Regions from separate parts of the Homo sapiens genome. Here region 2 is linked to region 1. Evidence: fine-mapped expression QTL. A gene starts in region 1. The other region holds a variant in brackets. All regions are shown on one strand. Distances are between the middles of the regions.

What was found. PIP is the estimated chance that this variant, and not a neighbour inherited with it, causes the effect. A credible set is the group of variants that fine-mapping cannot tell apart.
Region 2: its variant is the best candidate, but not a certain one, in a credible set for the expression of VGLL4 in prefrontal cortex (ROSMAP, PIP 0.66).

Annotation. Positions count from the first base shown.
Region 1 is chr3:11,641,406-11,646,783 of GRCh38, forward strand. VGLL4 (vestigial like family member 4) reads right to left here and starts at 2,510. Exons shown (of 5, transcript NM_001128219.3): 1 at 2,032-2,510. The coding sequence starts at 2,113. RefSeq lists enhancers at 1,094-1,463, 2,654-2,733.
Region 2 is chr3:11,462,492-11,467,869 of GRCh38, forward strand. All of the region lies in intron 20 of ATG7 (autophagy related 7), which reads left to right. Among named protein-coding and RNA genes, the nearest start is that of VGLL4, 180 kb to the right of the region's middle. The variant A/AGT (reference allele first, on the strand shown) is at 2,597.

The sequences.
Region 1 (5,378 bases):
CTCCAAGTCCAAGTGTTGGATTTTAAAGAACCATAACCTTTCCAACTTTTCCTACAAAAAAATCCCGTGTGTGATTTATGCCCATCTTCAAAACACCCTCTGGAGTTCAGACCAGATGTGTGCAGTGTTTACACTGAGAAAACCACTAGGACATCAACAATTCACTATAAACACCACTCAAATTTTGCTGTGCTTTCCTTCATTTCCTCTGTATTTATTCTGGTGTTAAAATAATGTTAACTCTCATAATAAGGAAAATAGGAGCAGATGTTTAAACCAAACAGACTTCAGCCCATTATCCCATATAGCTACTCAATCTTCAAAATCAAAGTTTCTTCCTCCCAAATACCGAGAGAGAAGAGCAGAGCAGAGCACTCTAGTTTCCTGGGTGTTGCATGCTACACAACAACTCGACCTGGGCTCGCTGTCCGTAAGTTGGTCCTCACCAATCGGAGACAGGAAAAACTAATCTGGTATCAATTTCCTAACAATCTTATATTTCTCTCTTAGGCCATTATGTTTTGTTTTTAAAATATCGTATTACTTGTTGGCAAAGACAATACAACAGAAATTGCCTCAGAAGTTTTTCTTTCTTGTTGGGGGAAGCGGGGATGGTTAAAAAAAAAAAAAACAAGAAAAACAAAACCCTGACTACAATGTGTGAATGTCACGGGAAACAAGCCCAGCAATGGCTGCTTACGGCTTTCTAAAGTCGGCTGCCTTTTTTAAGTGAGTTCAGAAGCAAGATGTTACTTAACACATCAGATGCAAAGAAAGAAATTCACGAAAATTCTCATAGCAGGAACTAGTAGGAGTAAAGAAAAACAAATACTCTTTTTAAAAAACGTTAAATATGAGATCCTCATCCATAGAGTTTTAAAAAACAACGTGAATGAGGGTTGTTGTTGTTTTTTTTCCTTGAAGGGGAAAAATACTCTTGAAAGGGTGAGTTTTCAACTGATTAGGAAACAGGCCTGAAGTTTTTAGATTAAAAAAATACAAGTGAATCACCCTCCCAAGTTTTTGTAACTGTTTTCTTTTTCAAGAGAAATGTCCCGTGTATTATTGGAGAAAAAATGGAAACTGCTCCTGCTGAATGAGAAAGAGAAGAGTCCCGGATGTGTGTGTGGTTACAACAGAAAACACTCTTCCTGCCAGGCCGAACTCCCCCGGAGATGCCCTCGGCGGCAGACCCAGGGCCATTGCCACTTTTTCAAATCGCACGTAGAGGATGTCCGAGGGCTTAAGAAATAGATTTTTCTCTGACTGCTACCAGAGACAGTTGGAAATACAAGACAGTGGGGGAAGCACCTCGCGGGCAGTAGGAGGTAATAAATAACAGTTCGGCGCGGCTCTCTCTTTTTCAGGGCAGGCTGGGGGTCGGGGTGTTGTGTAATCGCTCCCACAGGGAGCGGAGCGCGAGGAACACCCCCCAGTGTCAGCGCTCCCCGGGCTGCACAGGAAGCGCCAGCGAGACAAAGAGCCCGCCTGTGCTCGCTGACACGGTGCCCTTCCGGCCCCACGCGGGAGAGGGACATTCTCCGCTGTTTGGGACGCTCACTCGCGAGCACAAAAACTCGCTGTAACTTTGGCTCCCCCTCCGTGAGCTGCAGGGCGCCGTGGCCCACAGCAGGGTACAGTAGACGGTGCAATCCTTACCAGCCCCTCCCCCAAAGAGGCTCAACTTTTACCGGCGTCCTACAAGTCCTTCCCCTAAAGACAATATTAACGGAAATCAAAAATACATACATTTTAAAGAGTTAAAAATGTGAGGCGCGAGTACGTTGCAAGCAACGAGCAAACTTTGAAGGGTTTCTACTTCACTGCCTCCCCGTCCAGCCCCCTCCACCGCCCCCCGCAGCCTGAGATCCGAACACACTCGGTGCCGAACCGAACCTAAGAAACGCCGGCCTTTCAAGTGCCCTACACCCCGGAGGAGGACAGCGGGCGCTTAGAAGGCAGGCACCCAGCACACTGAGGAGGAGTGGCCGGGACGAGCAACGGGCAGTAATTCTACAACGGGACATCTACCTTCGTAGCACAGAATGCCGATATTGTTGTTCATCTTGTCCAAGTACTGATAGTTCAACAGGTCCATCTTCATAAATAGCATTTATTGGGCTAGCAAAGAAAACCAGCTCTTTGCTTTTGCCCCAAAAGAGTTAAGTTTCAAAAATCAATTGTTGCTGAGTAGCTCCTGGCTCTTCAACTTCACAAAGGCAGAGGCCCAGCCTCAGACTATCAAAACAAAGTATGCAAAAGTTAAAAAAAAAAAAATCAGGCACAAAAAAATCGAGCTCACACGAAACCCTTCAAGGGCTTACTGGTAGACGGTGTATGTACTGTATCCCCGATCGAGTATGAAAACAGCGTTTCAGAAGTCCTTACAAGTCCTTCCTGGAAATGGAAAAGAGTGAAAAAGAGAAACGCGCAGCCCGTTTCCTAGGACAAAGCGGCGCCGGCCCCTCTCACAGCCCGCTGCAAGCCGGCAGCGCTGACATGAGGGCTATGCTTGGCATGACTCCTATGCCGCCGCTTCCTCTTCCCGCAGGAGGCCGAGCATGCTCACTGCGCCGCGCTGCCGAGGCAGGGAGGGCTTCTGCACAGGATCAGCCTCTCAATGTAGCAAGTGTTGGAAAGAAAGAGAAAGGGGAGGGGGAGAGACTCTAGAGACGGGGCCTTGGCAGAGTGGCTCTTGACAGGAAGCAGCCAAGCCGCTGCAAAACCGTAGGAGGAAAAAAGAAAACCCAGGAAGTTTCTTTTTCAGGAGCTAAGTACAAAGTAAAAAATCCATCATGGAAGCAAACTCCCATGGAATGCAACTTTCGTGAAACTTCATGTTGGGGTTTCGGAAACCCAAAGTGCTAGTGATGCATAAGCCATATATATATATATAGTGTCTTTGTTTCTTTTAAAGATTGTTTTATAATATCCATTTACACTTTAACTGGATATTTAAATTTCTGATGTTAATGTTACATATAGCTTCTTCCATAATCCCCATAACAACTGAGATGGACAGGGCAAGGAGGGTATCACCCTTTCACAGCAGAGGAAACAGGTTCAGATGGATTAAATGACTGGCCCACAGCCCCCAAAATAGTTGACAGAACTACTTTTAAAGTGTTTTTTCCCACCTAATGTTATAATTTTATTTAAAAAAACGAGGGGGCCGGGTGTAGTGGCTCACACCTGTAATCCTAGTCGAAGCAGGCGGATCACTTGAGGTCAAGAGTTCAAGACCAGCCTGGCCAGCATGGTGAAACCCCATCTCTACTAAAAATACATAAATTAGCCTGGTGTGGTAGCGCACGCCTGTAGTCCCAGCTACTCAGGAGGCTGAGGTGGGAGAATTGCTTGAACCTGAGAGGAGGAGGATGCAGTGAGCCAAGATCGTGACACTGCACTCCAGCCTGGGCAACAGAGTGAGACTTTGTCTCAAAAAAAAAAAAAAAAAAGAAAAGAAAAAAAGGAGACAAGGAGAGGAGAAGAGATGGAAGAGTGTTTAAGCAAATAGGGCTATAATATCAAAAATTAAAAGTGTACTTGAAATTATAGAGGGAAAGGGTAAAATTATTTTCATTTGGCATGTATGTCACCCACCTGTGTGTAAGAAGCTAGTGGCATGCAGCTGTACTATTTGCTATTGGAAGAACTTGGGGCTTAAACTTTGATTACCCAGTGCCTAGCACAACCAAGTTCAGGTGCCCAAAAACTGTTTACTGAACGAGTGAACCACTGAATGTTCAGTTTTCAGCACATCAAGAACGTGTTAACAAAATAGAAAAAAAAAAAACAAAAACTAAACATTTGAATTACTATTCTAAAAATATATTTTTAATATTCCAAAATAATATTTGAATAAATAATTTGAAGGAGTTGTATGTTAAAAATCCAGCAATAGGCCAGGCGCGGTGGCTCACGCCTGTAATCCCAGCACTTTGGGAGGCCGAGGCGGGTGGATCATGAGGTCAGGAGATCGAGACCATCCTGGCTAACACGGTGAAACCCCGTCTCTACTAAAAATACAGAAAATTAGCCGGGCGCGGTGGCGGGCGCCTGTAGTCCCAGCTACTCGGGAGGCTGAGGCAGGAGAATGGCGTGAACCCGGGAAGCGGAGCTTGCAGTGAGCCAAGATTGCGCCACTGCAGTCTGCAGTCCGCAGTCCGGCCTGGGCGACAGAGCGAGACTCCGTCTCAAAAAAAAAAAAAAATCCAGCAATAGTTGCATTGGGTTTATTAGGCACACTCATGGCAAGGTGTTCTAATGAAATCTTACTTGGGAGTCCGGATGCGGTGGCTCACGCGTGTAATCCCAGCACTCTGGGAGACTGAGACGGGCGGATCACTTGAGGTCAGGAGTTTGAGAACAGTCTGGCCAACATGGTGAAACCCTGTCTCTACTAAAAATACAAAAATTAGCCGGGCATAGTGGCATGTGTCTGTAATCCCAGCTACTAGGGAGGCTGAGGCAGGAGAATTGTTTGAACACGGGAGGCAGAGGCTGCAGTGAGCCAAGATTGTGCCACTGCACTCCAGCCTGGGTGACAGAACAAGACTCCGTCTCAAAAAACAAAACAAAACAAAAAAACTATATGACATCTAAATACTAAATACTGTTGCCGTCATTGCTGCAACAGTAATCACTGGGGTGACATCAGGGGAAGTAAGTAATAGGGGAATCAAGATTTCACAAGCTTTCATTTATAAGAATATTTATTGACACTATATTACATGTAATAAGCTATAGTGAAAGATATGTATCCTATCAATTGTAATTAAAATACTTAATGGTATTTGGTGGGGAGGGTTGAAGAAAACTCAAAACTCGTAACATCCAGTATACATGAGATCATTGCACTGAAAACAAACAATATCAGGTATCAGATTTAAATTTAACTGATAGTTTTGGAGTACTCTTACTGTGCTACGTTTTTACATAAATTCTCAATCAGAAAACTTTATCCATCATTGTCCCACATGGAAGAGAGGTGGCTGCACATTAGAACCAGGGGGGAGCTTTTAAAAATCTTGCTGCTGAGGTTGCATCCCCAACTCATCTGAGGTGGGAACCAGCAGCAGTAGCTTCTAAAGTCCCAGGTGATTCCAATATGCAGTCAAGGTTGAGAACCATTGCTTTCATCTAGGGAGGAAAAAAAAAAAAACCCTGCCTTAAGATATTTCATTTTATTCACTTATTTTGACATGAAGAATTTTTTTAATAGTAATTTAAGCAAATGATTCAAACAATACCATTGTAGAAAATGAATAAAATATTTGGTAACGTCCCTTAAGGGACTCAGCATCACTTAGAACAGCAGTTCTCAGCCTCCGGGTGGCAACCATTTTCGTGGACACCGTCTCACAGGTCTACCTTGA
Region 2 (5,378 bases), 180 kb before region 1:
AGGCAGGGCAGCGTGAACACTTTAGGGTTGGCTAGTTTGAATAATCTCAGGGGCCCTAAGCTATAGGAATGGTCCCTAGTTGACTGTACCTGGCCCTGGGATGATGAAAGCAGAGGAATTTTGCCTCTTCGGGTGTTGGGCCAGATAGAGGAGGTGTGGCTCTGAATTGGTTAGTTCGCATGTCAGAAGTGTACTCCTGGCTGGGCCCTTTGCTGGCTCTAAGAATTAACTATCCTCTCGCCACCCCCCCAGGGGCAGTCTTCCCAGCTAGAAAGGTTTTTTAAAAGATGTTCAAACATCGTAACATACATAAATATGTAACACAAGGGCCCTGGCTCCTCTCAGATATTTTTATTTATTTATTTATTTATTTATTTATTTATTTATTTATTTATTTATTTATTTATTTTTGAGACAGAGTTTTGCTCTTGTTGCCCAGGCTGGAGTGTAATGGTGCGATCTCTGCTCACTGCAACCTCTGCCTCCTGGGTTCAAGCGATTCTTCCACCTCAGCCTCCCAAGGAGCTGGGATGACAGGCATGTGCAATCATGCCCAGCTAATTTTGAATTTTTAGTAGAGATGGGGTTTTGCCATGTTGATCAGGCTGGTCTCAAACTCCTGATCTCAGGTGATCTGCCCTCCTCCGCCTCCCAAAGTGCTGGGATTACAGGCGTGAGCCACCATGCCCGGCCCCTCTCAGATATTTCTATCCATTGTCATACTCCCACTCTTTCCCTAACTACTACTGACTTCAGCTTGCAGCAGAAAATTCAGCCTTTGTAAGCTTGAGAGGACTCAGGTTGCTGACCAAAAGCAGAAGAGGCCTCCCTTCAAAATGTATGGAATGTTGCAAAAAGTAGACAGTGATCCTCAATAATCAGATACTTCCCTCAGAATGGTCTGCTAAACCTTCAGTCTTGTTGAACCAATTGGTTCAGTACTTTGTAACAGAACTTGGGAATTTCTCCACCCTGGATGGGATATTTCTTATGGCCTCCCATCCCAATTCATGTCAGCCCTTCCCGCATTTAGACTTGGTTACTTTCAACTCTTTACTCCTGGCATCATTTTTAAATGATTCAGGACTCTTGGTTTCAAGTGACATAAACCCACCTTGAATTATCATAGGTGGAGAGTGTTGGAGCATTGAACATAATGGAAAGAAAAGTTAGCTTTTTTCTACAGTTCTGATAGGAACAGGTTCTCTCCCTGCAGACTGGCGTCTTCTGCTAGACAGGAAGTGTGACTACTGGCAGCTCCAGAGCCTCATAATCCATAGCTTCAGTTGCCTGGCATGCACTGGCCCTGGACTTCTCACACCCCAAACTCTCATATGTGGGCCCAGCTGGCTCTCTTGCTCATTTTGGGACCAGTCAAGTTAGACTAGAGAGGCAGAGTCTGTAAAGGAACGTGGTTGGTGTGGGGGAAAAAGCAGTTTCCATAAGAAGGTGGTGGTCCCAGGAAGACAGGATGGTGGCAAAACCAAAGGTGTTTGTGACAAACCTGAGAGCATATCAGGAAGAGGAATGATTAAATCATTTAAGTGACAAGAGCAGGTTGAAAAACAACAGGTGTAGTATGCTTTTGTAAAAAAATTGGCCAGGCATAGTGGCTCATGCCTATAATCCCAGCACTTTGGGAGGCCAAGGCAGGCGGATCACTTGAGCCCAGGAGTTTGAGACTAGCCTGGGCAACATGGTGAAACCCCATCTCTACAAAAAATACAAAAATTGGCCAGGCATGGTGTTATGCACCTGAAGTCCCAGCTACTTGGGAGTCTGAGGTGGGAGGATTGCTTGAACCCAAGAGGTCGAGACTGCAGTGAGCCATGACTTGCACTACTGCGTTCCAGCCTGGGTGAACGAGCAAGACCCTGTCTCAAAATTAAAAATTAAAAAATTATGTATTCAGTAAATCTTTTCTAATTGACTTTCCATTAATGGAATGTCCCAGTTGGTTAACTCCGCACCCCCTCGGTAAAGTACGGGGGGAGGCTGAACATTCTTAGCTGGCAGCCTGGTTCCTAGGACACCAGCACACTTCTGCTCCCACCAGCTGAGGCCTGGGCTTTCCAAGAGTCATTCTTGTTTCTTGCCAAACCTGGGAATGCCAGATGGACTTGTTGTTTTAATTATACCATTTAATTAAATATCCCCCAAACGAAAGACAAATACAGAAAGTTATTTCTGTGAAAGTCATTGCGAGTAGCTAGAAGCAGTGGCTTTTTGCAGAGGGGACAGGGCTTTTACCTTTTATTGCCGAATAGGTTCTGGAGTCTGACCCCCTATTTTCAAATTATAGCTCTACTGCTTCTTTGCTGTGTGACACCTTGGGCAAGTTGCAGAGTCATCCTAGGACTTGGCCCCTTTACTATAAAATGGAAATAGCAACCTTGTTTGGGTACTGTTAGGATTAAGTAATATAATGTATTTGAAGCACTTTGCACAGTTCTTGGGCACATAGTAAACACTCAACAGATGCCACATCTATCATCATCGTCATCAACAATCACAGCCTTATTAAAGATGTAGAGAGAAGTCATTGGCTGTAAAGGAAAAATTTTTTTTCTTATCAAATCAATCTCTAAAAACCTAA[A/AGT]GTGTGTGTGTGTGTGTGTGTGTGTGTAAGGACACCTCCAGAGAGTTCTAGAGCTGAGTGAAAACCTGGTTTATTAAAATGAGCCTGGGCCGGGCACAGTGGCTCACACCTGTAATCCCAGCACTTTGGGAGGCCGAGGCGTGTGGATCCAGATCGAGACCATCCTGGCTAACACGGTGAAACCCCATCTCTACTAAAAATTCAAAAATTAGCTGTGCATGGTGGTGGGCACCTGTAGTCCCAGCTACTCGGGAGGCTGAGGCAGGAGAATGGCGTGAATCCAGGAGGCAAAGCTTGCAGTGAGCCAAGATCACGCCACTGCACTCCAGCCTGGGTGACAGAGAGAGACTCTGTCTCAAAAAAAAAAAAAAATGAGCCTGTAAGTCTGGGTGCACATCTGTAATCTCAACACTTTGGGAGGCCGAAGTGGGATGATTGCTTGAGGCTAGGAGTGTGAGACCAGCCTGGGCGTGAGTGAAACCCCATGTCTACAAAAAGTTAGTAAAAAATAATAATAAAAAATAAAAATTAGCTGGGCGTGGTGGCACACACCTGTAGTCCTAGCTACTTGGAGAACTGAGGGGGAAGGATTGCTTGAACCCAGGAGGTCGTGGCTGCAGTGAGCAGTGATTGCACCACTGCACACCAACCTGGGCGACAGCGAGACCCTGCTTCAAAAAAATAAAAATAAAAAAGCCTGTAGCCCCTCTTCCTTCCCTAATATATTTGGCTTCTATAAAAATTAAAAACCCAGGGATAAGAAGAAGGGGAGAGAATTGGAAAGCCCCTGGTTAGCTTTAAGGGCCTCTCAGTGCAGCAGAACCCATGCTGGCTCTATTCATAACTTTGCTCTCTGGATCAATATTCTGAAAGTTGGTACATTCTTTTCATTTGTGTCTTTCACAGAGGGCAGTAAAATTTAGCTCTAATTATATTTAGGGCATCTGGATTCTAGTCAGCATTTTCTGGCTCCGTTTTAGAACCTAAAGTCTGCGGCTTATTCCTAATGTGGAAAATGGAATAATCCCCCAGGCATGAGAAGAACTCCAGCATTGAGGCTGCTGTTCCTCTAGCGAGAAGCTGCTGCAGACATCACAAGACTTGTTATACAAGGAAACATGATTACAGTGGATTAAAGAAACTTGCCAGGGGCTTGAAGGATTTATTGCTTTTTGAATTCTGAATGAGACATAAATATGTTTTTCCCCTCTTAATTTTGGACCCCATACGGGTAAGGTGAGAAAATTCTTCAGCAAATTCTAGAATGCTTAGCTGCTAAAGATCAGTTGGTTTTGTGTCCACGTCATATTGCAAAGGGCATGAATACTTGCTTGGCAGAGACACAAAACAGTCACTCATTTCTTTCTGTTCTGCCAAGTTAGTTACTGCCTTGTCTCCCAGTGGGAGAAAAATGTAACTCCTTGGGGACTCTTCTGGAAGGCAGCATGGTGTAATGGAAAAAGCACTGTAGTCACAGGCACGAGGCCTAGACTACAGCGTCGGTGCTTATAAGTTCCATTATTTACAACAGGTTTCTTAAACTCTGTAAGCCTTTGTGCTCTTACTGCTCTTTTCGGAAAAAGCAGTTCTCAGAGGGTTGTATGAAGGATTATAGCACCTTTATGTTCAATATCATCTATAGAAACTCAACTGTTGGATGCATTAGCATCAGAATGACAGCTTGTAGTACACTCATTTGTGTTCACAGATCTCAGAAATTTTTATGTCCTAAATGGAGGGACTTTTAAAAATAATGATGGAGCTGGGCATGGTGGCACACACCTGTAATCCCAGCACTTTGGGAGGCCGAGGCGGGCAGATCACCTGAGGTCAGGAGTTTGAGATCAGCCTGACTAACATGGTGAAACCCCATCTCTACAAATACAAAAAATTAGGTGTGGTGGCGGGCGCCTGTAATCTCAGCTGCTTTGGAGGCTGAGGCAGGAGAATCACTTGAACCCGAGAGGCAGAGGTTGCAGTGAGCTGACATCATGCCATTGCACTTCAGCCTGGGCAACAAGAGTGAAACCCCATCTCAGAAAAAAACAAAAACAAACAAAAAAAACTGATGGCTTCTTAACCCTATCACTTCTGCAGATTCTTTGGTTTCTCAGGAAGCCAAAGAGATAGCATGGGGCAGTGGTTAGTAACAACTCTGGAGTCAGACCAACCTGAGTTTAAATTCACTACTTATTAGCTGGGAAGTCTTTGAACAACTCACCTAACCTGTTGTTCTCATTTTCCTAATCCGTAAAATGGACATAAAATATTACCTCAACCGTAATTTGTTTTGTTTCGTTTTGTTTTGAGATGGAGTCTCCCTGTGTCGCCCAGGCTGCAGTGCAATGGTGCGATCTCGGCTTACTGCAACCTCCGCCCCCCAGCTTCAAGCGATTCTTCTGCCTCAGCCTCCCGAGTAGCTGGATTATAGGCATCCACCATCGTGCCTGACTAATTTTTGTATTTTTAGTAGAGGCGGGGTTTCACCATGTTCGCCAGGCTGGTCTTGAACTCCTGACCTCAGGTAATCCACCTGCCTTGGCCTCCCAGAGTGCTGGGATTACAGGCGTGAGCCAATGCGCCTGGCCCTATTTTTTTATTCCTTTGTCCTGTTTCCTATGTGGGACTTATCACCGTTTGGCATTATTATTTATTTGTGTTCTGTCTACCACCCCAGCCCCACTCAAATATAATCCCCATAAAGGCAAAGACATTATATGTCTTATTTACTGCTTTATATGTCTTGCCTAACAAAGTAACTGGTACATTATTGTTACTTAAT